Homo sapiens: one gene and its partners. The protein of the gene in region 4 interacts with the protein of the main gene of each other region in a biochemical or structural test. Each region holds a gene or a part of one and is shown on either strand. Other genes may lie near its edges.

Region 1 (4,475 bases), on a different chromosome or scaffold from region 4:
TAACATTAACCTCATGCAAGGACACCTCCAGTGGCAGAAGTGAAGATACGACTTCCCACGGCTTCCATAGCTCAGGTGTCAAAAAGCTGCCGTGATGTCTCTTAGGTTCACACTCACCTCCATCTTAACTTATCCAAACACCAAACTCCACATCCATCCCCAAACCCTCCTCATCACCACTCCAAAATGCTCCCCTGCTCCTCCTGCTGTCACCATGCCAGTAAACGGCAGCTCCAGGTCCATTCTTCCAAGGCCAAAAGCATTGAAATTGTTCATGACTTACCTCTTCCTCTTACACCCTACACTCAATCTATTAGCAAATGCTTTTGGCTCTACCTGTAAAATACATTTCACATCTGACTACTACTCACCACTTCATCACTGCCACCCTGGACGAGCCACCGTGACTCACCTGCGTCACTATCATCGCTTCCTAACTGGCCTCCCTGCCTCCACTTTACCTGGAAGAGTGGATTTTAAATGGTCTCACTGCAAATAAATAATTAAGTATGGGAGGTGATGAATATGTTAATTAGCCTGATTTGATCATTCCACAATGGATACATGTATCAAAACATCACATTGTACCCCTAAATATATATAATTTGTCAATTAAAATTACATTACTTTTTTTAAAACTTTAACATATATCAGAATCACCTGAAGAGCTTTTAAAGCAGATTCCTGGGCCCCACCGTCAGAGATTCTGACTCAGCAGGTCTGAGTGGGGCCCCTGACTCTGCATCTTTATCCAGCTCCCTGTGACACTGACAACACTGAGGAAGAACCACAATGTGAGCAGTACTAAGTCAGAGCATGGCCTCTTTTATTCAAAGCCCTCTAAGGGCTTCTCGGGGTGCTCAAAGTAAAATCAAATGTTTTTACCTTGGCCAAGATAACTCTTCAGTGGCAAGCCTCTCACCTGTGTGACACCTGTGACTGTAGCTCCTACCACCCCCTCTCACCCTCCTGGCTGCATGGCCACACTGAGCACCGTCCCACCTCGCCAGGCCTCTGTGCTACTTTTCTGTCTGCCTAAAATTCTCTTCCACAGGACATGCACACGGCTTACCCCCTGACCCCGTCAGGTCACCTGGTTACAAAGTCTCACCGGATGTGGGATGTCAGGGTACCGACCCCACACAGGCTTCACTGTCACCCTGCACTCTCAACCCTTTGTCCTGCTTTCACTGCTCTCCACACCACTTGCCACCATCCAAAAAATGACATATTGTTCACTTATTGTCTGTCTACCATAACTATAAGTTCTAAAAGAGTAGAAATTTTATTATATTCAACTGGACATCCAAATGCAAATAAATAAACCTCAATCCATACTTTGTACCACATACAGGTGCTAACTCAAAATTGACCTAAATATAATGTCTGAAAGTACAAAACTTCTAGAAGAAAATATAGATGACTTCAGTGACCTTAGATTAAGAAAGATTTGATATAACACTAAAAGCATGGTGCATAAAAAAAGAAAACTGATAAACCAGAGTTCGTCAAAATTGAAAACTTTGGCTGTTATGAAAATGAAATTATTTGGGACTGGTGAATCCTCTTTGCCTTCCTTTTCCTCCACCCTTGAACAGGACTGTCTATAACTGATATCCCATGCCCATTCCCTAACTCTAAGTTGGAGCAGATAACTTGATTCTTGCGTTTCCCAGGTGGAAAGGAATCATGCCTCTGGATGGACTACACCCAGACCCTCTCATACCTGATTTAGATGATGAGATTTAAATGAGACTGTGGACTTTGGGTTGATGCTGAAATGAACTGAGACTTTTGGGGAGGCCTTGCGATGGAGTGAATATGTTTTGACACAGGAAGGAAATCTATCTCTGGGGGCCAGAGGGCAGAAACTATAGCACTATATGATTCTACTTATATAGCATTCTGGAAAAGGAAAACTGCAGGGGCAGAAAACAGATCGGGGCTGCCAGGGTCTAAGGCAGGGGAATGAGATGGCTACAAAAGAGTACAAGAGAATTTGGCGAGTTAATGGCTGTTCTATATCTTGACTGTTGTGGCAGTTACACAATCATTCGTTTGTCAAAATTCAGAACTGTCCATTAAAAAGGGTGAATGTTATTACATGTAAAGTATAAATCAGTATACCTTACTTTTAGGGAGTATATATTCAGAACAACTTGAATTTATACTCTTGGGGTGAAAAACTATTATTTTAAAAAATGATGTTATTTGATCCCATAGTTGCACTTCTAGGAATTATTCTAAAAACATGAGAAACATGAACAAAATTTTAAGATTTTAAGTAAAACAATTTTATCCATAAGAACAAAAATCTTAGAAATGGATATTATATAAATTATAAAAATTCACAAAGTAGGATAATATACAGTCATCAAAATGTCTCAAAAAATGTGTTACAGAAAAATGCTCATGATAGAAGAAGTGAGGTAAAAGATTAAGAGCTATATATACAGCATCTCAGCTATTTTAAATGTATACATTTTTAAATACTGGAAATAAAAAAAGAACAAATGGTGATGGGCATTAGTGTAATTTTTATTTTCTTTAAAACCTTTATCTCCTACATGTTCTGGAATGTGATGCTTCTATCATTAGAAAGCAGTGAGGGTTTGTATTAGCAGTCATCACCAACACCTACCTTCATTTATTCCCACTCCTTCTAGGATCAAGCCTAAGGCCTCAGTGAGGTTTGCAGGATCTGGCTCTCCCTCTATACCAGCCCCAGCTCACCCCACAGCCCAGCCAAGCAGAAGAACTCAAATTCACCACACTCCCCCAGTGCTGCTCCACACTCCCGCCTATGCTCAATGTGCTCCTTCCATGTAGAACACCATCCTCATCTCTACTCTACCAAGGCACCCATCTCCCTCTGAGTCACACAGCTACCATTTTTCATCCAGTTTACCCCCTAAAGTGTGAGATCACCCAACCCCACACTCAGTGCCTTAGTTTAGACCTTCACCATCTATACTAATCAAGACCCCTAAGGTTGCAAGAGACTAATTTAAACTAGCTTAAGCAAAACAGAAAAATGTATTTGAAGGATAATGGTTTATTTCCCATAACCACACTACAGGAAGAGTGGGTGCCACTGGACCTCAAATGCCAGGAGGATTCTCTTTCTCTACTGGCTTAATCTACTTTCCTTCTAGACCAACTACTTCTACACAAAGGGAAATATGGCTTCCCACAGCCATCCAGCCTCAAATCAGATCGTTTATTTATTTTTTGAGACAGGGTCTCACTCTGTCACTCAGACTGGAGTGCAGTAGCACGATCATGGCTCACTGCAGCCTTGACCTCTAGGGCTCAAGCGATCCTCCCACCTCAGCCTCCTGAGTAGTTGGGACTACAGGTGCACACCACCATGCCCAGCTAATTTTTCTATTTTTTGTAGAAATGAAGTTTCACCATGTTGCCCAGGCTGGTCTCAAACTCCTGGGCTCAAGTGATGCGCCTGCCTCTGCCTCCCAAAGTGTTGGGATTACAGGTGTGAGCCACCGCACCTGGCCTAAATCAGATAGTCTCTAACACCAGAGAAAGCAGGCTATTCTTTGTTCCCAGATCCAACAGTCCCAGAAAAGGGCTCTGACTGCCCAGGCTGGATCTGTTGCACACCCAGAACCAAGCAACTAGAGACACAAAGTTGGGAGGGGGTTACAAGGTCACACCATATTGGCACTGTTTCCAGAAAAGAGTAAACAGTTGTGATCTAGGCATCAATCCTAAAAACTTCTACTACACCATCTCTCACCCAGATCAATGTGACAGGCTAGCAACTTTTGCCTCCTCTCTCCAGGCCTGCCACCTGCAATCCATTTGCCACACTGAAGCAAGAGTGACCTACAATACATCTCTCCTAAAACCAAGGTTGGGAGGACAGATGACAGCTTTACTACTTACAAGTTATTCAAGGAACTTACGCCTTCTAAGGCTTTTAAAGCCATTGTAAAGATGCAAATACACAATTCCTACGGAAAGCTTTGCTCTCCACTGAGCAGAGTGAAAACTCAGTAAGTTCAATTCTTGATTATGATGAGGGCATGCAGATTCTTCACAATCTGGCCCCATCTTACCATTCCAGCCTTATCTTTCTCCCCTCCTCAGCCCCATCCCTCCCACCCTCTACATAGTCACATCTACACCTCCAGCTCCAGCCAGACTGATCTACTTGCAGCTCCTTCACTGCCCCACACTTTGTTCTTTCCAGACCTTTGCACTTAATGCCCCCTCTGCTTAGAAAGTCCATTCTCCACGTATATATGCCTGAACAGCTCCTACCCATCCTTAAGAACATGGCTCTAACAGATCTTCTGGAAGCCTTCATTGACTGGCTGCTTACCCCAAGCTGGGCCAGGCCCTGGGCTCCTCCACACCTGTGTATACATCTAGTTGTAGACTGCTCACATCACACTCAACTCTCCTCTCCATTTTACTCACTCTCTCCACATCTCCCTTAGACTAGAAGTTCT
Region 2 (4,475 bases), on a different chromosome or scaffold from region 4:
CCATTGAGAAGGGGACAAGGCTATACGCCATATGCTGATTTCTAGCATTAGCATTAAAGACCAGCAAACAGACAAACTGTATTTGTTGGAAAAACTGTATCTTTTAACAAATCACTATGCTTATTGAAGTTAACTTAAAAACAAGAAGACAATTTCAAATATTCAGTCTCATTGTCCCCCCAAAAATCACTGTAAATAATTCAGAAATTTCAGTAATCAAAAACAACTTCTCCCCTACTCAGTAGTAGTAAAAAAAAACTTTATAGGTCGTGTGAGTTTTTTTTTTGTTTGTGTTCTGAGATTATGACCACAAACTGAGCATCTGGCCTTGTCTACTTCTCTACTTTACTCAAGTGGTTCTCTATATTCTTTTTAATATGAGGTGTGATTGGCTATAAAAATGCAAACATACACCACATTATATATCAAAAAAAATTCTATAAAATATTTTTGGAGACCATACACCTATTATGATTCTAGTACCAATGGTCAAAACTACTTCATTGGAAATTGTTTTAGTGTTGAGGAAACATTCTACCTTATATTTCATCAACAGCAGTAAACCCAAGTCCTTGGGGATGAGTTTTAATTTTAGAGTAAGTAAACTTGGAAACTTTATTTTTTTCTGAAGCAAAATGAATCTAAAATAATAAAGACTTGTTTGATTTCTTGAGAAATGGCAGGGTGTAGAGGAGAGAATGTGGAATTTAACTAAATCTGCACTTGAACCCCAGCTCATTCTCTCCCAGGGATGTAACCTTGATCAAGTAACCTATATCCAAGATGTTTCTTCTCATTAAAAGGCAATAATAAAGATCCTGACATTACAGCGTCTTGGATCCACATGGTACCTCTACCAGTGCAAGTATGAGAACCACAGAAGGCCGTGTAAAGGCTCCCCCTCGCCTCTCCCACCGTGCTTTACTTATAGATGGATTCTGACAGCACTCCCTAAAGAAGGGTTCAGAAATACTTTGAGCAATGCCACCAGTACTGAAGTAAATGGATCAGACCCCAAGATCCTACTCTGAAAACAGTGCTTATTTGGATGTATAAGCTTTGGTTTACTTCCAAAAATACCATAGGGACCACTTAACCCTAGGGTGTAAGAATAACAACAGCATCAACAGCAGCAGCAATAGCTAGCCTATGTTGTATTTCTATGTTATACATCAGTAGGATAAATGCCTTATCTATATTAATGATGTATATTAATATATGAATTCATTTATTCTTCCTTAGGACCCAATGCGGTAGATGTCATGTATTTTTATTTTGCAGCTATAGAGATGAAGTCACAAAGATTAAGAAAACTTGCCAAGGTCAAAAACTGTGACTATCAGTGCTAGAATTTTTGCCCAGACCAGTAAATGTTAATGGAATTACTGATGAGAAAATATTTTACAGTTCTTATTTCTTCTCACTTGTGATGCTACCCAACAATGGGTGAGGGTCTATTATGGCACACAGAGACACAGGAGAATATGTATCATGACAAATTCAAAGACAGTGTGCCTCAATGGAGTTAGTCTGCAGAAGGACACAAGGAAGCCTAAAATTAATATTCTGAATATTCAGGTTGACATCAATATGTCACAAGCCATAATTTTGAGTGGCCTACTGCACTCATTGCTGTGACTATTTTTGCTTAATTGTGATTAATAATTGAAAATATTTTTCACAATGTGAAAATATACTTTGCTGCCAAGGGCTCAAAATGGTCACAGAAAGGACTCTGCTAGTCAAACTTAAATTACACTTAGTATATCTCATTTTCATGAATTTCACTGAAGCCATGCTTTCCTAGGTATGAGTTTAAGGATAAAGAACAGGTGGAGAGCAGAGTCACTCCTCTGGCTTCCAGTTATATTCCTAGCAGAAAGTGGGAAACAAAGGATAGTTTCTAGTACAAATCAAGCTAAAAAACCAGCTGGATGAAATGAGGCTGGAAGAAGTGAGGCTGCCATTCAGGGGCAGCTGCTCTGTGCCCACTTGGACTTACTTTGACTATCTGATGCCAGAGAAGCCCAAATGCAGCTCCATCATTGCCCTGCCCCTCCCAAGTTTAGAGGCCAATGCCCAAGCCCTTAGTTTTGTCTTTTAACAAAGACAAAGCTGAGATGGGCTACCAAAATAATCAAATTGAACTTTAGCTTTTTATTGTGATGCAGGGGAAGAATTCATCCAGCTGGGATCGGAGTGCTATGTACCCATTCCCAGAATTGGGGAGATTTTTGACCCTCCTAAAAGGAACAATGTTCAGAAACATGCTACAACTCTTTATTGAATGTTTACAGCGGGCCAGGCGCTGTGGATGCAGAAACAAGGAAAGTCTAAAACTCCTGCATTCCCAGCACTTACATTCTACTGGAGAGATAGGTGATAGTGGAACAATCAAAAACATGTTCATTTTGTACGGCAATTAATACTAAGGAGATAATAAAACAGGGATATACTAGACTGTGCCAGGGTATAGGTGAGATTAGGTGGTCTCAGAAGGCATTTCTGAGAAGCTGATATTTTTGCTGAGACATGAGTGACTCAAAGGTGCCGGCCATACTAAGATTTGGAAGAAATTCTTGCATTTTCTGCTCCCTCTGCTAGGAATGAGCCAGGATTAATAAAGGTGCAGGAGGTGGTAATGCGGTTGCAATACAGTGAATGAGGTAAGAACAGTAAGGAATTTTGACATAAAGGTAATTGCAGGGCTAAATCACCTACAATGGAGGAAACTAAGGAAAGAAGATTAGATTTTAAGTGAGGGGGAAGATATTGGAGTATTCTAAGTGTAGTAGTGATAAGATATGGTTTGAGTTTTTAAAATACCATCTCGGTTGCTGTGAGGAGAATGAATTTTAAGTGACAAGGGTGGATGTGGAGAGAGTTCGATTCCTGGAGTGATACAAACAGCTGAGAGATGGAAAGAAGTGATTTGACTTAGAATGTGTTTTGAGGGTAGAAACTGCAAGGACTTGCAGATGGCCTGGATCTGACAGTGAAAGAAAAGGAGAAACCAAACCCTTCTGGCAACTGAGTGGATAGCTGTGTGTTTTATTGAAATTAGAAAAACTGGGCAAGGGACTCCTTCCAATGAAGGGGATTCAAGAAAAGCTTTGCTTTGGCTGCCTTAAGTTTGATAACCCTGATAGTGAATCAAGAGGAGATGAATGCTGAGTAGACAGCCAGACACATATGTGTCCAACCAAGAGAAGGGGGAGGCCAGGGCCAGAGGTAAATATTTGGAAATTTGGGAGTAATTGTCTATAGGTGAGATTTGAATTTCATTAAGTGAGATTTAAGGTTGTTCTCCATTGCTGTTATTAGGGGGAGAAAAAGGAAACAAGAGAGAGGTCACGTAGAAGAGCACAGTGAGAGTGCATGTGGCTGGAGGCAACAGCAAGGCAGTAGCTCTCTAACCTCTGTCAATGCCCAGCACAACTTCTCCAGTAGTTTCCAATACAGCTGCTCAGTGTAGATGAGAAGAAGCCCCCTGAGAGATGCTGCTCTGATAGATCAGTGACTCTCTCTGTGAAAATGCCTCAGCCTGTCCTCCTTCCAGGAATGCAGACTTCCCATCTGGCCCAGTAACTGGGATGGATGGGCCCACAGGCCAGCAGATACACCTCCTATCTCTGCGTCATGCTTCCTCTCCTAACTTCATCTTCACCCCACCCCACCCCACAGACAGGTGAAGACCTGGTTGGAATTGGTAATGAAATGCCAAACAACTCACCACTCGAAGTCCCAATTGGCACAGACACAGGGTTCTGAGACCACTGATCCTGAGTGGTCTCGGCCCAGGGCACACTGAGCTCCTGGCTTACGTTTCTTGAATATTTTCCTTTCTCCCATGACACAAGGCTCTCCCTTAGAGAGAAATTCCATAGTGTGAGAGACAGAAAAACAAAAAGGTGGTGAAATAAACCAGTTGTCAACAAGAAGCATTAGCCTGTTCATTCTCATTTAGGTACTTTATGTAGCAGTCTCATTCTCAGTAATGATCCAGGAGTTTCAAGAATAAAAGTGCTAATCTTTCACTACCACATAAAAGGAACATTATGGAAGGTGGGCCCACTTCTACCCTCCACCCACCCAAGCCAGTGATGTCTACATCATCCCGTTTCTGCTCCACCTCCATAGAGAATGTAAGGACTCCAGGCATCTTTGCAGACCACCAGGTACATTTGCCCAAATGGCTTCAGTAGCAATTCTAGTGGAAAGGAGCCCATTTATGGCACATTTTTCACATGGTCTTCAGAGGGAAATTGAAGTTGACCCAAAATGTTCCTTCTCTATGATAAACGACCATGCCCAAATCTTAATTCCCAGTCAAGAACAAAGAAAGGAGAAGTTGATACAAATTACAAGGACCCAGTGGTTCTGGAGCAGAAGTCTGCCTATTTCTCACAGCAGTAAATATCTACCATTGCTAGACCTACCCACCCTGACACCATTTCTCAGTGGACCTGTTCCCA
Region 3 (4,475 bases), on a different chromosome or scaffold from region 4:
CATGCCCCATGCTCCCTCTACTCCTGCCCTGCTGGGCTTTCTGCTCCAACACACTCCAAGCACACTCCCCGCTGGGGTATCTGCATCAGCCCTGCTCTGCCTGTAATACTCCCCCACAGCCCTCCTGCGGCTGGAGCCCTCCACCCTGGTGACATGCAGGCTCTTCCAACTGGCTAGGCCCCACCAGGACAGACCTCTCTCTCAAGCCAGATCCCAGCATACAGCCCAATAGGCACTGCCCTGTCCCTGCAGGTGTTCGTCTGGCCCAGCCTCTGAACCTGGATGTGAGCATGCCCGCCTGGCTCCCAGCCCCCTCAGATAACTCAGCTTTGTGGCTAACACAGGAGGCCCTGCCTCCACTGGAGGCGTCCCTCCAAACCTTCCCACCTCTTACGCACCGTGAGGCCGAGCAAGCCCTCGGCCTCTCTGTGCCTGTCTCCCCCAACCTTGCCTGACATGACCCATGGCACTTCCTCCCATTCTAAACCCTCAGCAGGTGTCCTGGTGCTGAATCACCCTCCAGGAAATCCTGCACCTAGGGGCCTGTTTCCCCATCTGTTCCCTGAGGCCCTCCAGGCCTGCTTGATGGCTCAAAGCTTCACTACCAGGGCAATCCTGAGCCCAGACATCCCCCAGTGGAGCTGGCTTCATCTCAGCCCACTCACCTTTGGCGGCCTCAGTTCGCTTGGGCAGGTCTAGCGTGTCAAAGTTCCGGTCCATCTCACCATCCTTCTTTCCTGGAAGGGAAAGGTGGTGGGAGGTGAGGCAGACCCCATATGGGGAATGGGTGTATCAGGAGAGTTGGGCACAGTTCTCTCCTACCCAGGCCCCAAAAGGCACCCCCATGTCCAGGCCTGGGCACCTGTGGGAGTGGAGCACCGTTGTCAGAGTTTGGGCAGACAGTTTAGCCTAGGGGTAGGAGTTGGTGGCAGTGGGGCCTGGGGATGTCCCAGCCCTGCCCCTAGGACTCATCTCCCACCAGGTGCTGGGAGCTGTACCACAGACCCTCCCGGTGGCTCCCTTGCAACTGCCAGGTATGTAGACTGAGGGAAGCCAGGAGCCCTGGCTGGATGGTAGGTGGATACAAGCCAAGAAACTGAAGGCTGACCAGGACAAGACTCACTTGGGTCACACAGTAAGGCAGAACTAGGGGGAAACTCCCCCAGCTGGGGTCAGGACATTGTCCCAGGATCTACTAGCCAGGAGAAACCCCACAGCAGCCCACCTAACATTTGTGTAGCCCTGGCTTGCACACGTCTGTGACAGTGAGCCCACTGTCAACCACTCTCCCCATGTCAGATGATGCTTCTACCCCTTCAGAAGGCAGCAGAGTGGAGCCAGATGACCTGGGGTCCCTGCCCTGCTCACCCTCATGGGACCCTTGTATCCCTCCGAGCCACATGATGCCCCATTCTATCAGAGAAACAGACTGCTCCTTGGTGCCCCTAGAGATAAGTACCCCCGGGCCCTGCCCACTCTTGGCTCTGCCCAACTCTGCCCAGGTAGGCAAGTCTGAGGTTACAGAATGAGCCCCGTGGCCTTCCCACCTGCCACTGTCATAAAGATGGCAGCCCGAGTGATGAAGCCAGGGGTGGGGCAGGGCCCTGGGGCTGGAACGTGCTCGCCTCTTCCCAGGTACCCACTGCACACGCCAGGCCTGGAGAGCAGGATAAAAAGGGACTCACCTTGGTGGAACCACTCCTCTGGGAGGCCGGAGGAAGCAGAGGAGAGAGGAGAGGAGCCTGAACAGGCAGCACTCATCACCCCCCCATGCCCTCCCGGAAGCCTCAGGTTCCCACTGCACACCCTGGATCAAGCAGGCAGCATGTGGAACCTCATCCCATCACTTCTGGGCACTGAGCACCCACCAGGGGTACAAGAAGAGGGAGGCCTGGGGTCAGTGGGGCAGGGGCAGGTGGCGTACAGGTCCCCCACAGCTGCTGGGGAGGTCCTGGGAACCTACACCCTGCTAGTGCAGTAGAGAAGGTGTGCAGGGCATCTTGCCCAGGCAGATGGGGGGCTGCCCCACAGGTTGGTGGCAGTCTACAGCTATTCTGTGAACAGTGAGCAGGCAGCAGCCATGGCTCCTTCCCAACTCATGGGCAAGTGGAACTCTCCCCGGAGTAGAAAGACTGGGTCTGGGCATTGGTTGGTTTCCCTTGTGTACTCCCTGGGGGTCCCACAGTGTAGATGGGGAAGGTTGGACCTGGGTCCCATCAACCATGTGACCCAGGGCAGTCCAGCCTCCTTGACTCCTGGCTTCCCTGCCTGCCTGTTGGGGGCTGACCAGGTGTCCTCTAGCCTCCATGATGGGCTGCTGTGGGTGTACAGAGAGCCTTCCGCTGGGGCAGGAGTTGAGATGGTAGAGATGATACCCCAGTCCGCCCCACCCACCTTTGGCCTTCTTGCCTCCAAAGCAGCTGGCATCATCCCGCCTCCGGCGCTGGGAGCCTACAGCACTGCCCAGGGGCCCGGGCTCGGCCTCCTGGTACCTGTCGGCCCCGGGCACCTCCTTGTGCACGTGGTAGGACAGGTTCCGCATGATGCACACGCAGTTCTCCACCGACTGCAGGGAGAGGTGAGTGGGTGGGGCAGGGCACCCTAGGCACAGGGCTGGCCCTCAGGAAAGACTGGCCACAGCTGGTGTGCATGAGGGCACCGGGAGCAAAGGAACAGGGAGTCCTCAGTGGAGGGGAGCAAAAGGGCGGTAACCGCCAGGAAGGGTCCATGGGAGGAAGCCTCTGCCCTCACGGCACACCTTCTGCCTGCAGGACGGTGCCCACTTCAGTGTGGTCACTGCGAGGCGGGCCACACCCAGAACGCCACCCCAGACCCACAAGCCCATTCCCCTGTGCTGCTCCCACAGTTCCAGCCTCCTGGGACCTGCATGATCGTCTCTCCAGCCCTTGGTATGAGGCTGTGACCGTCCCTGCCCACCTTGTTGTCAGTGTCCTTCCGGCCCACAGCCGACTGCAGGGCATGCAGGAGCGCGTCCACCAGCCCTTCACACTCCCGGAGTCGCCGCCGGGCCTCAGCACCATCGGAGCTCACATTCCTGTGTGGCCAAGAGCAGGCCAGGTGACCCCTGGCTACCAGAAACTCCCTGGCTCCACCCTGGCCTTGTGGGCTTGTCTTCATCTGCAAAATAGGCCCTGCTGCTGCCCTCCTAGCACTAATGGGAAAGGACCCCACAGTCTGGAGCTCAGTGAAGGGGGAGAAGCTAACTGCCCCCAGGCCTCAGGAGGGGAGCCCTGGCAGACAACTATCTTGGCTGGGGATAGCTGGGCAGGGAAAGACAGGGTTTCCCTGCCTCCCAGCTGACCTGGAAAGGGACAGGTGCACTCTCAGAGAGACCTGAACCTGTGCAAGGGCAATTCTGGGTCCCTCGCCACCCCAATGGCAGCTCTGGGCCCCACCTTACCCCAAGGTCAAGAGCCTGCAGGGCTGCGCGGGAACACCCTGATGGACAAGCAGGACTGTGGGGACCCAGGACTCTGTGGGGTCAGCAGGGCCTCCCAGGGGTAGGAGGGGAAGGGCAGAGGTCACAGGTGGCTGGGATGAGCCTCCCAGGCAGATGAACAGGAAGGTCCCAGCTCCCCCTCTGGCTGTCAAGTGATGGGAAGGTAGGTGAGAGCTGGGCAGGGCTACGGTACCACAGAGACCCCTCCAGAGGGTGCCCCTGGGAAGACTGGGACACCACTTGGGGGTGAGGACAGCTCCATCAGGCCCCACTTCTCATCCACAGGACTTGTGCCACAGCTCTGAAGCTCCTAAGCTCTGGCGCTCCTAAGCTCGCCGCCATCTTCCACACTATCTGGGACCACGAGGACGGGGCCTGGTGTGCATGTGGGCTTTAGCACCAGGTCTGGTCCACACCTCAGGCAGCCCGACGTGTTCTTGAAGACAGTTGTCCACTCGGCGTCCCGTGGCTTGGAGTCCTCGTTGGGCTCACGCTCCCATCCTGAGTGGGGCACGATCACCTCGTGGGTCAGCGTCTGCAGGCCATGGTCAATGATGACCATCTTCAGGGGCTCATAGGATGACAGGTTCCACAGGGTGCCTGTGGGGTGCGATTGGCCAATCTGTGCTGACCATATGCACCGCCTGCCTACCTCCCCAGGTGGCCACGCTCAGGACCTGTCCCACTCTCCTCATGTCCCAGCTCATGCAGAACAGTAGGAAGTAACAAAAGCCGTGAGTGGTTCCGGGGGACACCCAGTACTGGTTTCCAGCTAGGAAGGAGCCCCAAAGGGGAGGAGGTGCAGAGGAGGGTGTGGCAGTGCTGTCCCGTCCCACCCATTCCCTGCCATGTGGCAGGTGGCACTAACACTCCTGAGGCCACAGGGCCTCACAGAGACACGGTGACCCTACCTGTCCCTCAGCTCTCACAAGGCACAAGCCCCACCACTGCACGGTTGGGGTGGGAACCAAGGAGGTGGGTCCCAGGAGAGTTTCTGTGGGGGCAGGAGGTGTGA
Region 4 (4,311 bases):
TATATATTTATATAAATCTACATAAAAAAATCAGTGCAAATGCCAATTCTAATCTGAAAGCATCTACACTAGGAAAATAAATAGTTATATTACTACAAAACCAAGGGTTGGTGGTTCAATTTGATTGTACTTAGCCACAGCAACACTAGTAAATGGAAAGCACATCACACGACCCGCGAAAACATCTACTCATTAATGACAGTCTTTTAAATAAATGGTTGCATGCTCAGTTGAGAAACCAAAGAAGTTATCGTGGTGGCCTAAAAATAGAGCTGGGATCAGGAATGGCATTCTGGTGTCAGAAAACTTCTGGGAGCAATATTGATGAAAGTAGGCCTTGACCTGAAACTGGCGAATTGCAGACATGGACATATCTTTAACATTTTGAGCAATCTAAGGAAGTCTCTGGAAATTTAACTTTCATGAGAGGGAGAATGCATTGCTAGCCCTTCCATTGGCAAAGGAAGCCTCAGGACTATGGGAAGATGCATAATTTTGCATTTCTGTTTTGTTTTGGTGACTGTAGCCAGGCAGACAATGATGTTTAGCGTAAGATGAACAATGCCTGTTTTTGGAAAGAGACTCTCATTCTAAGCTCCGATGTTCTTACTGTGAAGAAGCCCCATCACTCTGATGGCTCTATCTCTTGCTCTCCTACCCAGCCTACATGCTGGTTTGCTGCACAGTGTGGCAGAATCCCTGCCAGGTCTGGATGTACCCCAGAAATAAGGCGATGGGGCTTAGTCTGGGCATGCACAGAACCCAGAGTAGAGTGGTTATTATCACTGAAAAGTCTCTCCCCAAACACCATGGGCAAAAGCAATGCTGATGTCGCCATCCACTCTAAAGTGGGAAACCAACTCTTCTAGTTCAGTTTATAGGCTTTGGGAGGTTTCTTTTTTTAAATCATCGTTATTATAATTGTTAAAAAATAAACTTGGTCCAGGTGCAGCTCCAAGAAAGGCAGTTCAGTTGGTTGAGCTCAAAGTCATTAATTGTCTTTCCTTGTGACTCTATCTCTTTGCTCTGTACATAGAAACAAAAAAGTCTGCACCCCCTCACCCCCAACCAGACACTTCTCTTCTCTCTCTTCCTCAAAGAAATAGTGCATCTAGGAACAGATCTCTCATTGGCTCTAGTACCATCTCTGGATGTTACAAAACTCTCAGTTACTCTGTAAAACAAAAAGGTACTAATCCTAATTACTCATTGTTGGCCAAAATGCTAAATGGTCCTTTAAGAATTGTATGTCAGTAACTAGGAACAAAGTTATTCAACTATTTGCATGGCAGGCTCAGGTTATTTAACTAGAGGAAAGCAAAAACTTCCCTTTAGATCATTTGCATAAGTTTGTCTCTGAAAAGCCATCAGCATAAAAAAATGCATTAACCAAATGTCTTCCAAAAATATCCATGAGGGCAACTCATTAAGGGATGTGCTGCATGAGAGTGTATCACTAATGTGGAAGGGAGGTAAGTGAGGAAGAAGTCTTTGTCAGACTTAAAAGGAACTCAGATGCTCTTAACAGATCATTGGCAACAAAAGGGAGAGTGCAACTTTCAGGTCTTGAATTTGATCATCTGCTGATGTTGCATACATTTAGTCTTTCAATATTAGTCTTTACAAAATATTTCACAAAACTTTTTTAACCTATAGAAATTTGTTTCTATACATTTAATATATTTTTATTGTATAAATTATTCTCATCTTTAGTGCCTTCTTTCAGTTTATAAATGGCAAAATAGGCAATCAACAATCATAAAGCTAATCCCAGGTGGAATCCCCTCCTGTCAGTGAGGTTAGTCCTCCATACACTTGCAAATTTTATGAAATTCTTGTCTTTGCAGATGCCAGTCAAAAAACTACACACTTATCCTTCCCTGATAGTATGTCATCTCCAAAGGGATTCCTTTCTTTTTTCCTTCTTTCTTTCATTTGCTTGTTAAGAAATCAAAAGATGTGCATAGTTATAAAATTCAAAGTGTACCAATTACAGATGTGGGTAATGGGAAGGCTGATGAGGTTCGAGTGCTGGCAATTTTTCTTTAAAGCAAAAGACACAGAGAGCTCTGCAGCTAAATCAGCTCTGGACATCTGCTGGGGTGAGGAGGCTCTCATCTCATCTCTTGGGCAGAAAGCCCGTCAGAGGTTCATCCCTACACCTGGCACTTTGAGCAAACCAAAGCCTTCCTTCATACTGCAATGTCTTTTCTGTCCCACCCTTTGGCCCCTCTGTTTCCTTCATGGCTTCATACAGTTTGTGTTGTACATTCGTAAGAATTCACATTGACTGCAAAAACATAAATGCAACAAAAACATAAAAGCCTCCAAGTAGTATGTTATATATATTTTGTTCTTCTAAATGCTCTTCTGTCGTTGTCAGAGGCGCAGTAGCTAATTTATAACTTTTCCTTTGAGGGAATCCAGATGAAAGGCCCAGATTGCTCTTCAATAACAAGCTTGCATTGGTTATATATATCTTCTAAAGTATCTCCTTGGACAATAGCTGTAACAAAAGCAAACACACCCAGAATTAGAAATAATTTCCTGGATGGTGAAGAACAATCATCACTTACACATTGGAGGCTCAAATCAGTAGCAGATGACTCATCAGGAAGCTTCATATCATTTTTCATTAGTAAGAAGAAGCAGAAAATTCATATAAGCAAAGTTACATTCATGATTTTAAGAAATGCTTTCAATGGATATCCTGGATCAGTAACAAATGATTCACAGTCTTTGCACTTTCTACATGTCTGTCTGTAGTACTGGACAATTTATCACTCATCTATTTAACCAATATTTTATGGGTGCCTACTCTGAGCCAGGCACTGAGCTGGGCAATGATCAATTTTCAGACTGAGAGCTCCCTATTTAGAAAAGAAAACTGGCCTTACAGTCTGTATATTTACTTATTTTGGCAGCAGCAGAAATTCAGATATTGTAGACACCGAGGAAATAATGAAGATTTTAGAGGGAAGTTTAGTTAGCCTCCCAACCCTCAAAGCCCTTAATAGGAAAACCCATTAATTCCCCAAATCTCTGGTAACTTGAGATTTTTACCATACAGAGCTATTCATATTGAGAATACCATAAGTCCACTATTTATAAGAAACATAAACAGGAAGAAATATAAACAAACTGCTCAGTTGTGTATCTCCTAAAACACTAAGTCACTTGGAGTAGATTTAAGTACATTTTATTGTCTCATTTGAACAAAAGTTATCTTGTAGAAAGATTTCCAAAACACATCAGTATTATCCATATGACACTAGGTCTTAAAAATAAATTACTACTGAAAGATGATTTAGATATTTAAAAACAATCCTCAGAATATATTATTGTATTGTATACAAAATATAAACCACTGTCAAAATGTACACTTTTGTTTCTCCTACCTGGATGTTCTTTTAGGATGAAACACAGCTCGTATCTTGGTTACTGACAGAAAGATTACTTAATATTACCTGATTCAAGATATTTACAAACTGCTAAGGCACTGACACTTTCTATATTCTGAATAAGGTAAAAAATAAAACATCTAACTTCACATATGGTAATCCAGGAAGAAAGTTCTTGGGTTTTTTTTTTTTTTTTTTTTTTTTTTGAGACAGAATTTCACCCTTGTTGCCCAGGCTGGAGTGCAGTAGCACGATCTCGGCTCACTGCGACCTCCACCTCCTGGGTTCAAGTGATTCTCCTGTCTCAGCCTCCCTAGTAGCTGGGATTACAGGTGCCTGCCACCACACCCAGCTAATTTTTTGTATTTTTAGTAGAGACGGGGGTTTCACTATGTTGGCCAGGCTGGTCTCGAACTCCTGACCTCAGGTGATCCACCCACCTCAGCCTCCCAAAGTGCTGGGATTAGAGGCATAAGCCCAGCTCGAAAGTTCTTGTTTTTAAACCTCCGGGAACCAGGTGTAAGGCAAATTTCACAAAGTCTGATTACTCAGTGTTCTATGAAAGTATATAGGAATACAGAACTCAGAACTCAGGCTCTCCAGAAGAAAACCTCTATTCCCCTTCATGTTTCCAAGGAAACATTTAAAAAGAAAAAAAAAGCAGTTTTGGTTGAGACTTGACACAGTGAACTGAAACATGAGGAAGTTTTAAGCATCTTGTTCAGGTGCTGCTGATAGGGACACTGATGAAAGCTCATGGAGCTGGGGACGGACGCCTCCAAGCTTCTTCTCAAGAGTAACTGCTTTGGACACTGACCATTTTGAGCCCTAAAATTTTGTTTTTCAAGTTTTCTGATGATATCAGGGAGATAGTTTAATGAGGTAGCAATGCCTCAAATCCTTTTCATGG
Region 5 (4,475 bases), on a different chromosome or scaffold from region 4:
GTTACAAATGGAAGCTCAGGCAGTTTTTAGGTAAACCTTTCAGTCCAAAGTAGGCTTGTACTTCATCCACTTGAATCCATCAGTGAAGACAATCAGAAAGTTATTTTTTATCACTGGTCTTTTAAAAGATAGTTATTTTCATCTGTATTTTTTGTTTCACAAGAAATATATTCTTATGTTAATAAATAGAATGAAAAGTGAAGACCCCCTTTAAATTTCCCCTACCCCGCTACCTTCCCTTTGCTCTCCTCCTTATTCCACTCCCCAACCCAGGGATAACAACTGTGAGCCGTTCAGTGAGTACCATTCTACAAAATTTTTCAGAAAATATATAATTTTCTTTTTGCACAACTGGGATCATATTCTACTAACGGTCCTGCAATTTGCTTTGTTCACAAACATCCTGGACATCTTTCCAGGTTAGTACATATAGATTTACTTCATTCGTTAAAGCATTGTCAAATATTCCTTGTAATACATATAATATAACAATTTCTCTATTGGTGAACATTTGGCTTGCATCTATTTTTATCCATTTTAAAGAGTCCTATAATAACAGTGATAATAAAGCTATAATAGTTCACTTTTATTGAATGTTTATATGTGCCAGGCACTACACTAAGAACTTGTATTAACTCATTTAGTTTTCAAAACAATGCCAAGAGCCAGGCACTGTTTTTGTCCCTGGATATAGGTTCTCTGGATATAGGTTCTTTGTTGCATATTTAATTTGCAAATATTTTCTAGCAGCCCATAGTTTTTGTCTTTTCATCCTCTTTTGAAGAACTAAAATTTAAAAATTTTAATGAAATCCCCAATACAATTTTTCTTTTATGAATCATGGATTTAATGTTAAATCTAACAACTCTTCATCTAGCCTAAGATCCTTTGTCACCCAGCCTTGACCTCTTGGGCTCAAGTGATCCTCCCACCTCAGTCTCCTGAGTAGCTGGCACTATAGCTGCTCCCCACCATGCACTGCTAATTGTATTTTTTGTAGAGAGGACAGGATTTCTCCATGTTGCCCGCAGGCTGGTCTCCAACTCTTGGCCTCAAGTGATCCTTCCACCTTGGCCTTCTAAAGTGCTGGGATTACAGGCGTGAGCCAATGTACCTGGCCTCTGAAAGTTTTATAATTTTATATTTTATATTTAGATATTTTATATTTAGATCTATGATCCATTTTGAGTAAATTTTATAAAAGCTGTGAGGTTTGTATCATGGTTTCTTTTCTTGCATACCGATTTCATTTGTTCCAGTACTATTTATTGAGTAGACTGCCTTTATTCCATTGATTTACTTTTGAAACATCATCAAAAACCAATTTACCTGAAGGGCACAGTGGCTCACGCCTATAATCCCAGCACTTTGGGAGGCTGAGGCTGGAGGATCTCCTGAGGTCAGGAGTTCAAGACCAGCCTGGCCAACATGGTGAAACTCTGTCTCTACTAAAAACACAAAAAAAATTAGCCAGGCATGGTGGTGGGCACCTGTAATCCCAGCTACTTGGGAGGCTGAGACAGGAGAATTGCTTGAACCCCAGAGGTGGAGGTTGCAGTGAGCTGAGATCACACCATTGCACTCCAGCCTGGGCGACAAGAGCAAAACTATCTAAAAAAAAATCCATTTACCATATCCATGTAGATCTATTTCTGGATTCTCTAGTCTGTTCCATTGATCTATTTGTTTTATGCCAACAACATGCTGTTTAATGACTAATGACTGTAGCTTTACAATAATTCTTGAAATCAGGTTATTTTAGCCCTCAAACTTTTTCTTTCTCAGAGTTGTTTTGGCTATTTTAGGTCCTTTGTTTTTCTATGGCAATTTTAGGATTGGTTTGTCAATTGATTTCACTGACCTCATATCCCATAGCCTTGCTAAACTCACTTATTAGTTCTAATAGCCTTGTCTGTAGTTGCAACCTGCAATACTATAAATGTTGCATAGAAATGACGAGAGCAGACATCCTTGACTTTTTCTTGATTTTAGAGGGAAAGCATTCCATTTTTCACCTTTTAAGTATGTTAGCTGTAGGCTTTTTGTAGGCACCTTTTACCAAATTGAGGAAGCTCCCCCATCTTGCTAGTTTGCTGAGGCTTCTTCTCATGAGTTGGATTTTGTTGTGTTTCCTGCATCTATAAAAATGATGATATGTTTTTTATTTTTTAGTCTGTTACTATGGTGAATTACACTGCTTGATTTTAAATGTTGAACCAACCTCGAACTTATGGGATAAACTTCAGTTGGTTGTAACATATTATTCTTTTCATATATTTCTGGATTTGCTTTGCTGATAGTTTGGCTGAAGATATTTGTCTCTGTCCATGAGGGATATCGGTCTGCAGTTTTCCTTTTTTATGCTATCTTTGGTTTTGATATTAGCATAATGCTGGCATCATAAAATGAAATCAGAAGTTCTCCCTCCTCTTGTATTTTCTGAAAGATGTTGTGTAGAATTGGTATTCCTTCTTCCTTAAATGATTGGTAGAACTCACCATTGAAAACATCTGGGCCTATACTTTTCTTTTTGGGAAGGCTATCAACTACAAATTTTCTTTCTTTCTTTTTTTTTTTTTTTTTTTTGAGATGGAGTTTCACTCTTGTCACCCAGGCTGAAGTGCAGTGGCACGATCTTGGCTCGCTGCAACCTCCACCTCCTGGGTTCAAGAGATTCTCCAGCTTCAGCCTCCCGGGTAGCTGGGATTACAGGTGCCCACCACCATGCCTGGCTAATTTTTGTATTTTTAGTAGAGACAGGGTTTTGCCATGTTGGCCAGGCTGGTCTCGAACTCCTGACCTCAGGTGATCCACCCGCTTCGGCCTCCCAAAGTGCTAGGATTACAGGTGTGAGCCACTGGGCCTGGCCAAATTTTATTTCTTTAATAGATATAGGGCTATGTGGGTTATCCATATCTTCTTGAATGAGTGTCGTTAGTGTCTTTCAAGGCTTTTCTCTATTTTGTCTAAGTTCTTGAATTTATTGGCAGAAAGTTGTTCATTATGTTCCCTTATTATCCTTTAAATGCCTGTATGATTTGTAGTGATGCCTCAGTTTTCATTTATTACATTAGTTTTTAGGAACCATCCTTTGGTTTCGTTTATTTTCTCTACTTTCTCCCTGCTTTCAATTTCATTAATTTATCCTCTTATCTTTATTATTTTCCTCCTTTTGATTGCATTGGGTTTAATTTAATCACTTCTTTATCTAGTTCCTTAGGGAGGAAACTTAAATTACTGATTTGAGACCTTTCTTATTTTCTAATATAAGCATTTAGTGCTATAATCTTCCTTTTTTTTTTTTTCTGAGACTGAGTCTCGCATTGTCACCCAGGCTGGAGTGCAGTGACACAATCTTAGCTCACTGCAACCTCTGCCTCCTGGGTTCAAGCAATTCTCCTGCCTCAGCCTCCTGAGTAGGTGGGATTACAGGCACCTGCCACCATGCCTGGCTAATTTTTGAATTTTTAGTAGAGATGCGGTTTCACCATATTGGCCAGGCTGGTCTTGAACTCTTGACCTCAAGTGATCCAGCCCACCTTGGCCTCCCAAAGTGCTGGGATTACAGGCGTGAGCCACCACACCTGGCCAATCTTCCTTCTAAGCACTACTTTAGGTGCATCCCACAAAATTGGATATGTTGCATTTTCATTTTAATTCATTTCAAAGTATTATTTAATTTTCCCCTGAGATTTCCTCTTTGATCCAAGGGTTTTCTGGAAGTTTATGTAATTTCCCAATATTGGAATTTCTAGATATCTTTCTATTATTAATTTCTAGTTAAATTCCATTATGATCTAAGAACAAACTCTATATGATTTATATTCTTTAAAATTTGTTAAATGTATATCATGGCCCACAATATAGTTTCACTTCATGTACATAAGCACTTGAAAAAATATGTATTCTTCTGTCATTGGGTAAAGTGTTCTATAAATGTTAATTAGGCCAGGTTGGTTGATAATGTTATTCAGTTCTTCTGTATCCTTACTGATTTTCTGTTCACTTTTACTCTCAGTTACTGAGGGAGGAATGTGAAAGTTTCTATCTGTAATTGTAGATTTGTCCACAGTGTCCACATTTCTACCTCCAGTTCTATTTGTTTTTACTTCACATATTTTGATGCTCCATTTCTAGTTATACACATTTGGAACTACTATGTTTTCTTGGGGAATAGAAGCCTTTTTCATTATTTAATGTCTTGCTTTGTCCCTGATGCTATTCCTTGTTTTGAAGTCTATTTTCTTCTTTCTATTGTCTTTTTGATAATAGCTTTCTTTTGATATGTGCTTGCACGGTGTATCTTTTTCCATTCTTTTACTTCTAACCTCTCTGTGTCTATATTTGATGTAGGTTTCTTATATACAGCATAGAGTTGGGTCTTGCTTTTTAACGCCTTTTTTTTTTTTTTTTTTTTTTTTTTTTTGAGATGGAATCTCACTCTGTCACCAGGCTGGAGTGCAGTGGCACGATCT
Region 6 (4,475 bases), on a different chromosome or scaffold from region 4:
CCTGCCCTCTGGCTTCTGTCTGGGTTCGGCTAATGGAAGACACTAGCCAGCGTTTAGGGGACAGGCAGAGAGTGAGGAAGGTATATATATTCCCCTCTGTCTCCCTGGAGGGATATTACAGGCAGACGGGGTCCCTCTAGAAAGGGATACAGCTCTTGTCAGCCTTTCTTGCCCCTTCCTTAGAGTAGGACTAACTCCCCGTCACTGCTGGGTCTTTCTTTAGCATTCACCCTGATTGTATTCCCTACACCTGCCCACACCTTGCAAAAGGTCCCTTTAACAAGCCCTCCTCAAAGGACTTGGCGTACACATGCCATCTGTTCCCCAGCAGGGCCCTGAATGATACAGGTTGAAAGAGTGACCAGGTGGTGCCCTCCACTGTGCTTTCACAGACATTATCAAAGGAAATTGTCTGTAAACTGTGAAACACTATAACATTTCCATGAGCAAAACCTAGCACAGACTTTCTTGAATATGCAAGGTTTCAATGCCAAGGAAATATGACTGTCCCACCATATTTCTACAATTCACAGTGTGTTGTAAAAATAAACATGCAGAAGGCATACAATCAGAATCTGAATGTCACTGCCAACCAAACCAGAATTTTTCTTAAAAAATGAGTATCTGGAGAAACAGATGAAAGGACTAAATCCATCTTTGGGAAACAGAAACAGTATTTCACTTTGCTGTCATTTATCTAATCAAGACTCACTAACCCTGACTGAGTCTCAGTCTTTCAAGGAATGTGGTAAAATTCACAAATAATTTACTTCATATCATTAATAACAATTACAGTTATCAAAGTAGTCCCTTCTGAACACAGTTAGGAATCAATCAGTGACCTAGATTTCCTGCAATATTTCTCCCAATATCTCTTTAAAAGAAAACATGGTGTAGCAGCCAGGCGTGGTGGCTCACACCTGTAATCCCAGCACTTTGGGAGGCTGAGGAGGGCAGATCATTTGAGGTCAGGAGTTCAAGACTAGTGTGGCCAACATGGTGAAACCCCATCTCTACTAAAAATACAAAAATTAGCCGGGCTTGGTGGCACACACCTGTAACCCAGAATCGCTTGAACCAGGGAGGCAGAGGTTGCAGTGAGCCGAGATCGCACCACTGCACTCCAGCCTGGGCAACAGAGTGACATTCCATCTCAAAAAAAGAAAGAAAAGAAAGAAAAGAAGAGAAGAAGAAAAGAAAAGAGAAGAAAAGAAAAGAAGGTATAGTTTCTAATTTATATAGTCCTTTATCAACATATCATTTCAAAAAAACATAGCCAGGCCAGACGCAGTGGCTCACACCTGTAATCCCAACACTTTGGAAGGCTGAGGTGGGGGGACTGCTTGAGCCTAGGAGTTCAACACCAGCCTGGACAACATAGCGAGACCCTGTCTCTACAAAAACAGAAAAAAATAGCCAGGTGTGCTAGTGTGCGCCTCTGGTCCCAACTACTCGAGAGTCTGAGGCAGGAAAATCGCTTGAGCCCAGAAGATGAGGCTGCAGTGAGCCATAATGGCATCACTACACTCTAGCCTGAGCAATGGAGCAAGACCCTGTCTCAAAAATAAAATAAAATATAAAAAAATAAGAGTCAAGGACATTAAATTCAAGTATCCATTAAATAAAACTCATTAAATAGCATTATCTCCTAATCTTCTCATTCTTTAAGTAAAAAGCAAAAGAGATTCTTAAATAACTAGTATTTGAAAACCTAAAGCTACAAACACACCTGGATAGGATTTTTCAGCAATGAAATTAATTTTCCCAGGCCAGTATCAACGTCTGATCTGTCTGTGTTGGCTGTGGACCACCTCACTTCTCTAACAACAGATTAAAGGGTGCTTATGGACATGTCCCTGCTGGGAAGGGTCTAGAGTTTCACAGCTCACCAAATTGATCAGAAAATAGATTTTCAACTCTCTGATTCTACAAGATATGTCTTTCTTAAAAGAGTTTTTACATTAGCCCCTTAACTGATCAATTTGTTTTGATTAAGAACTGTATTTTCAAGGGATTTTAAGGACATAGTCTGTTTCTAAAATCACTTCCTGGTATGCCATATACAAGTGAAATCTTACTGAATTAGTAAAGCGAGGTAACAATGTGGGACATGCTGCAATTAGAGGCTATGTTCAGCTGCATAATCAGAGGTTCCACAAATTTCATGGAGACCTTTTTTAAAGGCAATTCATCAGTGCTCTGTCAAAATTTGAAGTGTGCATAGGCTTTTGACCAAATAGTTCCATTTCTAGAAATTTAGCTACAAAAAAAATTCTCACACATGTGCACAAAGACCTACGAACAAAGATCTTGAATCTTTCAGTTTGCAATAGTGTCCACAGAAGAATGGTTAAATAAAGTACAGTACATCCGTACTATCAAATTTTATGCAATGTTAGAAAGAACAAGATAACTAACATATTGACATGGAAAGCTCTCCATGATATACAGTTAAGTGGACAAAAGCAAGTCAGTCACAGACAAAAATGTATACAATATGATCCAGTATATGTAATAAGAAAATGACATGTATATATACTTATACATGTAAATGTACAGAAAAAAGGAGGGAAAGAGGCATTCTAAACTATTGCCAATGACTGTATCTGGGAATGGGTGTAGGTGGAAAAGGGTACTTTGCATTTTGCTTCCATATTTCTGCATTATCACTTCAATTGGAACATATTAATGTATTACTTACATCATTTTAAAAAACCAATGAAAAAAAATTAAAAGAAATCCCAGAGAGGGCTTTGGTGATTTGTCCAATAATAGCATCTTGGCAGATATGAGAGAAACACATCCCGAAGGAACTGCATTTTCATTTGATCCAGTGTGGTCTCTCATTTAAAAGCAACAAGGAAAATGAGGGCTGTTAAGCGGACTGCATCTTGAAACACTGGTCTGCAGGAACAGATCTGTATTCTATATTTCAGGACAAATACAGCTACTACCAAATAGCAGGGGGGACATCTTGTGACTGGTTAGAGTTCAAATCAGTGAGGCAGGCAAGAGAACCTCTGTGTCTCCATAAATGAAGTCACCTATTTCTGTACACTTGGGTGTTATTTTTTATTTATTTATTTATTTTTTGAGACAGAGTCTCACTCTGTCACCCAGGCTGAAGTGCAGTTATGTGATCTCGGCTCACTGCAGCCTCTGCCTCCGAGGTTCGAGCAATTCTCCTGCCTTAGCCTCCCGAGTAGCTGGAATTACAGGCGCCTGCCACCACACCCGGCTAATTTTTGTATTTTTAGTAGAGATGGGGTTTTGCCATGTTGGCCAGGCTAGTCTCAAACTCCTGACTTCAAGTGACCCACCTACCTCGGCCTCCCAAAGTGCTGAAATTACAGGCGTGAGCCATCGCGCCCGGCCAGGTGTTCTTATTTTAAAGGAGCACCATGAAACAGGAGGAAAAAACATGCCCTTCCCCCCTCAACTTTGTGTATTTGCCAACAGCTTGGAAAAATAGGGTATAGGGAGAGAATAAACAAGCAGAAATTCAGAATCTGAAATCTATGTACACTGGAAATAAATGACCATAACAACCTTTATAAGAAATTTTACAGCCAAAAAAATTAAAGGGCAAAACAAAAACTATTGACATGTTCTAGTACACGGTGTTTCCAAGCACTTACAGCTAACAAAAGGCTCAACATGGGAGCTCCTGGGTCAAACCACAAACATGCTTTGTTTGGCCACACCATGGGCTGACAGGTTTGTTTTCCATTTTAATTATTTCCAAACATTTTAAAATGAGAAGACTCCAAATAAATCTGGATTTCATGCTTCTCTTGAAAATGTGGAGGCACTGGTAATCCTGGGCCCTAGGCCCACCTGGCAGAAACCTGTCAGACCCGAGTGGTAGCTGCTCCATGGGAAGGGGCACAATTGGGCCCCTGGATGGGCGCAAGCCTCACCACTCCCTAAGGCCTCTGACACCTGGTCAGCCACACTTGGGCCTTTCACTTACTTGGCCCTTAGAGGAATCAGAGTACACCACACCCTCATTAAAACCATGAGGAACTTCACCAGGTAAAAACCGGCCTTCCAGAAAACTAAAACTATTTGTTTAGGCTACCACGAATTAGCATTTAGTACTCTCCCTATCTCGGATTTCTGGCATGCAACTGCAGAAACAGAAGTACCTAGGATTAGATAAGAATGCATTGTTTTATCCTCAATTTCTTATTCCAATTCCATATTCACAGCAGGATTGCCAGAAGCTTTTGTCATATCTCAGCCTAGTCACTTAAAATAATTATCACAAAACTTGTTATGGTAACAAGTCTTTCTGCAGCATGTACCAGCTTAATGACAGGTAATACACAGTACGGTGGTTAGAAGTTGGAGTTCTGATGTCAGCCTACCTGAGTTTCAGTCTCAATTCTAACTTTAACATCCTGGGATGATTAATTTAACATCTCCTAACCTCAGTTTCCCCAAGTATAAACTGGAGATGCTATTAGGACACA
Region 7 (4,475 bases), about 11 Mb from region 4:
AAACAGTTATCAAGTGAAGCTACTCTCTAGGGTTCTATTGAAAATGTACCAAATTAGTCAATTCAGTAAACTTAGCAAAGAACAACAACAACAAAAGGAACAAGTTGGATTTTTTGGGGTGAAGATAAAATACTTTGCTGAATTTCTGACTTCCCCAGGTTTTGTGCATGTTAGGCTAAGGGGTCACAATCACCACGCAAACAAGATCGGCAAACACGTTCCTTCTTCCTCTACCTGTCTGGCCTGCAGTGATAGATCCCTGAGGGGACAAACTAAACTCTGACTGAATTAGAGGTTCCTTTAAAGGCTGTTTCCCTGTGATGAACTAAGTCTAGGGTCACTTGAGTGGGGATTAGGGGCTCTGGCAGGCTCATTAATTCTCTGAAATAGACTGGCAGGACCTGGACTAGGCAAGGAGGCTCTGACAGTGAGGGAGAGAGAGAGCCAGCTAAGAGTTTTACTACGTAAATTAACCACAGAGCAACGCCTTCCCTCTTCGGTTTGTTTCTTTCTCTCCACCAAAACGATCTTTGGTATGTCACATATAATTTGGCATTTTGGTTAACCAATTCAAGGAAGAGAGAGAATGTGGGAAGATGGAGGTGTGGGAGGATGGCCACATTCCACAAGGGACTGACTGACAAGTCTCTGGTTTCCCAAATGCAGTTGTGCAGACACTGGCAACCAAGGACCGGTGAGGGTAAGGCAGAGACTGCAGCCCACTTTTGTGTGGATCCACAGACCCTTTGGGAGCAATTTTCTTTAAACATCTTTTAATTCAACTGTCTCCCCTCTCAGGTACCTGAATCTCTCTCATCCATGGAGTGTCACCATTTTCTGAGGCTGAAAGTTCTTCCACTAGCACCGATGGGAAAACTCCAATACGCCCATTGAATTCCCCTTCCCAGAAGCCATCATCATCTTGGTTTTCTTTGTTCAAGATACGGATTATTGCTCCCTCAGGAAAAGATAACTCATCATCTGTCTGGCCCTCATAATCATAAAGTGCTTTCACAAAACATACTAGGGAGCAAGAGAAAAACAAATCTGGTAAGATAATTAACAGCCGGTTGCTTTTGCAACCACCCCTATGCTCACATGACAACTAAAAGAGCATCATACAGAATAGGATTAAAGTTGTAATTTTTTTACTCACTGATGAATGATTAACTTTAGGGTTCTACTGTGCAGGACAAACGTGACCATATAAAGAAAAGCATATTATAGGACAGGAGGAAAGTTGTGCTTTTTATCCTACTGAAGGCTTACTCCAGGGCAATACAGTTTAGGTCAAACGTGACCAAATAAAGAGTGCCTTGTTTCAGTCTTTACCACTGGCATCTCCGTTGAGGCTGCCTGAAACGAGTTCTGCTTCCGTGGAATTGCTGGACGTGTGTGACCGACTGTCCAAAGCGGCCAGGGACTGCAGCATGCTCAGGAGGCTGTTCGAGGTGGGAAACTGTAGGTACTTTTCTGGCACATAACCCACTTGGCCAACTTTATTTCGAGCCTGGGTAAAAGACATGTGACAAAACAAGTTTACACACACAATTTAGACAGGGCACAACAAAGACCAAAACAAACTCCTAAAAATGTCACAAGAAAGGGCGATATGAGCAAAGGAATATACCTTTACCCAGTCTTCCATATCTCCATCTTCAATCACTTCTAACACCTCATGTTCCTCAATGGTCAACTCATCTGGTTGAGAAGCCTGCAGTGTAGGATGGTCATGGACAAAATTAAAAAGGTTAGATAAGGAGCAGATGTGAGCTGATCATGACAAAAACTGGGGATCAAAATATTGAAATGATTTTGAGAAACATGTTGAACATAAAAATTTAAATGCTGTAAAACTTTCATAATGAGGTGAAGTTTTACTTTAAAAAACTAAACAGAATAAAACCATAACAAAAACTCAAGAAACTGAATCCTCAAGAGGCAATGACGTTCAATGAACAGAACATGTAAGCCTGGGCAACACAGCGAGACCCCCATCTCTACCAATAAATAAATAAATAAGTAAATAAATAAATAAAATTAGTCAGGCATGGTGGAACATGCCTGTAGTCCCAACTACTTGGGAGGCTGAGGTGGGAGGATCGCTTGAGCCTGGGAGGTTGAGGCTGCAGTGAGCCATGAGTGAGCCACTGCACTCCAGCCTGGGCAACAGAGCGAGACCCTGTCTCTAAAAAAACAAACAAAAAAAGAGAGCACTTCCTGGAAGTAGAGGACCTGGGTTCCAACTCCAGCTTCTGTATCAAGTTATTCAACTTGATGCCTCCATTTCTTTGAAATGACAATCCTGCCATTTTCTGGAGGATGTGAGTCAATGTGGGATGGATAAGCACAGAACTGTGATGATTTGGGAAGCAAAGGCAAACGAGAAGGCACTGAATTGGAACTGCTACCAGAGGGCTCCCATGGACAAGCATGCAGTGAAAATGCAAAGAACTATGTACGTGAATTTGATGATAGTGGGTGCAGTGCCTAGGATTGATCTGGAATCACTGTAAAGCAGTGGCCAAAAGAAAAAAATTGTAGGAAAGGAAATGATTGAGATCAGTCATGGTTTGGATTTCTTATGCTCCAACTTAACTGTGTGGAGACTGAGCTGATCCATTTGCGTGCTACCGTACAAGCTGCTAACCATAATGGTTTTATTATCCCTGACAGCAGCAATCCACCAGCATCAGCCACCCACATGTTGCCCTTGAGACTGCCAAATCTGTAAACGCTCTGAGGCTCCACAGAGGGGCTGGAAAGTCCGTGTGGCTTTGCTTCCTAACAGTCTTGCCTGTCATGTGTAATAGACAGGGGCCTGCTGGCTTCTGGCTCTCTAGAAAACAGTCTTAAAAGCTTTCCCCAAGTCCCAAGATGGGTTAAAACCATCACCTAAAACCATAAAGTTTTTAAAATCTCACAATCTCAAAATGTAAAATTAACTCCAAGTTACACAAACAAAAATAAGGCAAAAAAGGGGTCATTTTCAAGATCAATTTCCCATTTTATGAACATTAAAACATTTCATCAAAATCCAGATTCTGGATGTTGCCATAGCTCCCTGAGACAGAAAAATAATATTGAGGAAAAAACCCCACTCATTTACCCTTGATAGCTTTTCCAATGGAATTCCTTCACTACTCTGAAACCACACTATGCCTTGAATATGCCAGCAAAAGGCATTTTTGTAATAAAAATGTTTTTCATGGCAAGACCTAAAAAGTATCAACACGACCAGACGTTAATGTATGTGACAGCAAACCAGGGAGGTAGTACACTTTTAAATAAACTGCTGCCCTTATAAAAAGCTATGGAGAGGCTGAGTGAGGTGGCTCACGTCTGTAATCCCAGCACTTTGGGAGGCCAAGGTGGGTGGATCACTTGAGGCCAGCAGTTTGAGACCGGCCTGGGCAACATGGCGAAACCCTGTCTCTATGAAAAATACAAAAAATTGGTGGGTGTGGTGGCACGTGCCTGTAATCCCAGCTACTTGGGAGGCTGAGGTGGGAGGATCACTTGAATCAGGGAGGCAGAGGTTGCAGGGAGGCAGAGGTTGCAGTGAGCCGAGATCACACCACTGCACTCCAGCCTGGGTGACAGAGCAAGACCCTGTCTCAAAAAAAAAAAAAAAAAAAAAAAACAACAACAAACAAACAAAAACCATGGAGGTCCATGCAAGTTTTTCAACACTGCAGCACTAGTTGTCCAATGTAAGCAGACACTAGCTTGATCATCCCATCCTAAAGCAGTGATGACCAATTCTTCCACCTAACAAGGTCAAGTTCTTTGCATGGCTATCAAGACCCTGCAGAGTTTGGTCCCTGTGGGCCTCTTGACGCTTTGGCCCCTGCACACTATTTCTATTCTCTGAGCATACCATGTTCTTCCTTGCCTCTGTGCTTTTATAGGTGTTCTTCCGTCCATCAGGCTCTGTTCCCTCTTTCCTATCTGATGAGCAGACTTAGATTACTGTGGGTTTAAGTCCAGCTTCAGTATATTTTTATGGGCAAGTGACTGTAAGATACCTTTGAACCTCAGTTTTCTTTTTTCGTACTAGAATATAAGCTCAATGAGGGCAAAGATTTTTGTCTGTTTTGATCAATGCTATATCCCAGAGCCTAGAAAAGCCCACAGCACTGATACATGGAAGGTGCTCAAGCACTATTTGTTGAATGAATGGGGTGTTTGATAATATCTTCCTCATAGGGTTATTGAAGGGATTACAAATAAATAGATAGATAGATAGATAGATAGATAGATAGATAGATAGATAAGTAGTTACGATTACTTTTGACTTGAGACTGAGCGCATATGTTTTCCCAGACTACTCATGATGAGTAAGCTGCTCCTCCTTTTGCTCTTTTTTTTTTTTTTTTTGAGACGGAGTCTCACAGTGTTGCCCAGGCTGGAGTGCAGTGGTGCCATCTCGGCTCACTGCAACCTCTGCCTCCCAGGTTCAAGAAATTCTCCTG

What was found.
Region 1: the proteins of DLG2 (region 4) and KIDINS220 interact in a test that uses a peptide from one of them, tested with the Homo sapiens proteins (one large-scale study listed by IntAct).
Region 2: the proteins of DLG2 (region 4) and SORCS3 interact in a test that uses a peptide from one of them, tested with the Homo sapiens proteins (one large-scale study listed by IntAct).
Region 3: the proteins of DLG2 (region 4) and ARVCF interact in a test that uses a peptide from one of them, tested with the Homo sapiens proteins (one large-scale study listed by IntAct).
Region 5: the proteins of DLG2 (region 4) and GAB3 interact in a test that uses a peptide from one of them, tested with the Homo sapiens proteins (one large-scale study listed by IntAct).
Region 6: the proteins of DLG2 (region 4) and PLCB4 interact in a test that uses a peptide from one of them, tested with the Homo sapiens proteins (one large-scale study listed by IntAct).
Region 7: the proteins of DLG2 (region 4) and FCHSD2 interact in a test that uses a peptide from one of them, tested with the Homo sapiens proteins (one large-scale study listed by IntAct).

What each region holds. Positions count from the first base shown.
Region 1 is NC_000002.12:8,827,204-8,831,678, forward strand, and holds part of KIDINS220 (kinase D-interacting substrate of 220 kDa), read right to left. Parts: intron 1-4,475. UniProt on the Homo sapiens protein: Promotes a prolonged MAP-kinase signaling by neurotrophins through activation of a Rap1-dependent mechanism. Provides a docking site for the CRKL-C3G complex, resulting in Rap1-dependent sustained ERK activation.
Region 2 is NC_000010.11:105,200,512-105,204,986, reverse strand, and holds part of SORCS3 (VPS10 domain-containing receptor SorCS3 precursor), read right to left. Parts: intron 3,868-4,475; coding exon 3,734-3,867; intron 1-3,733. UniProt on the Homo sapiens protein: Plays an important role in modulating synaptic transmission and plasticity in the hippocampus, probably by affecting the trafficking and localization ofAMPA-type glutamate receptors in the postsynaptic density.
Region 3 is NC_000022.11:19,975,021-19,979,495, forward strand, and holds part of ARVCF (splicing regulator ARVCF), read right to left. Parts: exon of another isoform or gene 4,372-4,475; intron 4,061-4,371; coding exon 3,877-4,060; intron 3,056-3,876; coding exon 2,938-3,055; intron 2,567-2,937; coding exon 2,395-2,566; intron 1,704-2,394; coding exon 1,686-1,703; intron 1,658-1,685; coding exon of another isoform or gene 1,557-1,657; exon of another isoform or gene 1,548-1,556; intron 738-1,547; coding exon 666-737; intron 1-665. UniProt on the Homo sapiens protein: Contributes to the regulation of alternative splicing of pre-mRNAs.
Region 4 is NC_000011.10:83,457,419-83,461,729, forward strand, and holds part of DLG2 (disks large homolog 2), read right to left. Parts: intron 2,507-4,311; coding exon 2,400-2,506; 3' UTR 1-2,399. UniProt on the Homo sapiens protein: Required for perception of chronic pain through NMDA receptor signaling. Regulates surface expression of NMDA receptors in dorsal horn neurons of the spinal cord.
Region 5 is NC_000023.11:154,744,164-154,748,638, reverse strand, and holds part of GAB3 (GRB2-associated-binding protein 3), read left to right. Parts: intron 1-4,475.
Region 6 is NC_000020.11:9,075,085-9,079,559, reverse strand, and holds part of PLCB4 (1-phosphatidylinositol 4,5-bisphosphate phosphodiesterase beta-4), read right to left. Parts: intron 1-4,475. UniProt on the Homo sapiens protein: Activated phosphatidylinositol-specific phospholipase C enzymes catalyze the production of the second messenger molecules diacylglycerol (DAG) and inositol 1,4,5-trisphosphate (IP3) involved in G-protein coupled receptor signaling pathways.
Region 7 is NC_000011.10:72,841,819-72,846,293, forward strand, and holds part of FCHSD2 (F-BAR and double SH3 domains protein 2), read right to left. Parts: intron 1,923-4,475; exon of another isoform or gene 1,715-1,922; coding exon 1,631-1,714; exon of another isoform or gene 1,511-1,630; coding exon 1,333-1,510; exon of another isoform or gene 1,024-1,332; coding exon 803-1,023; coding exon of another isoform or gene 799-802; intron 1-798. UniProt on the Homo sapiens protein: Adapter protein that plays a role in endocytosis via clathrin-coated pits. Contributes to the internalization of cell surface receptors, such as integrin ITGB1 and transferrin receptor.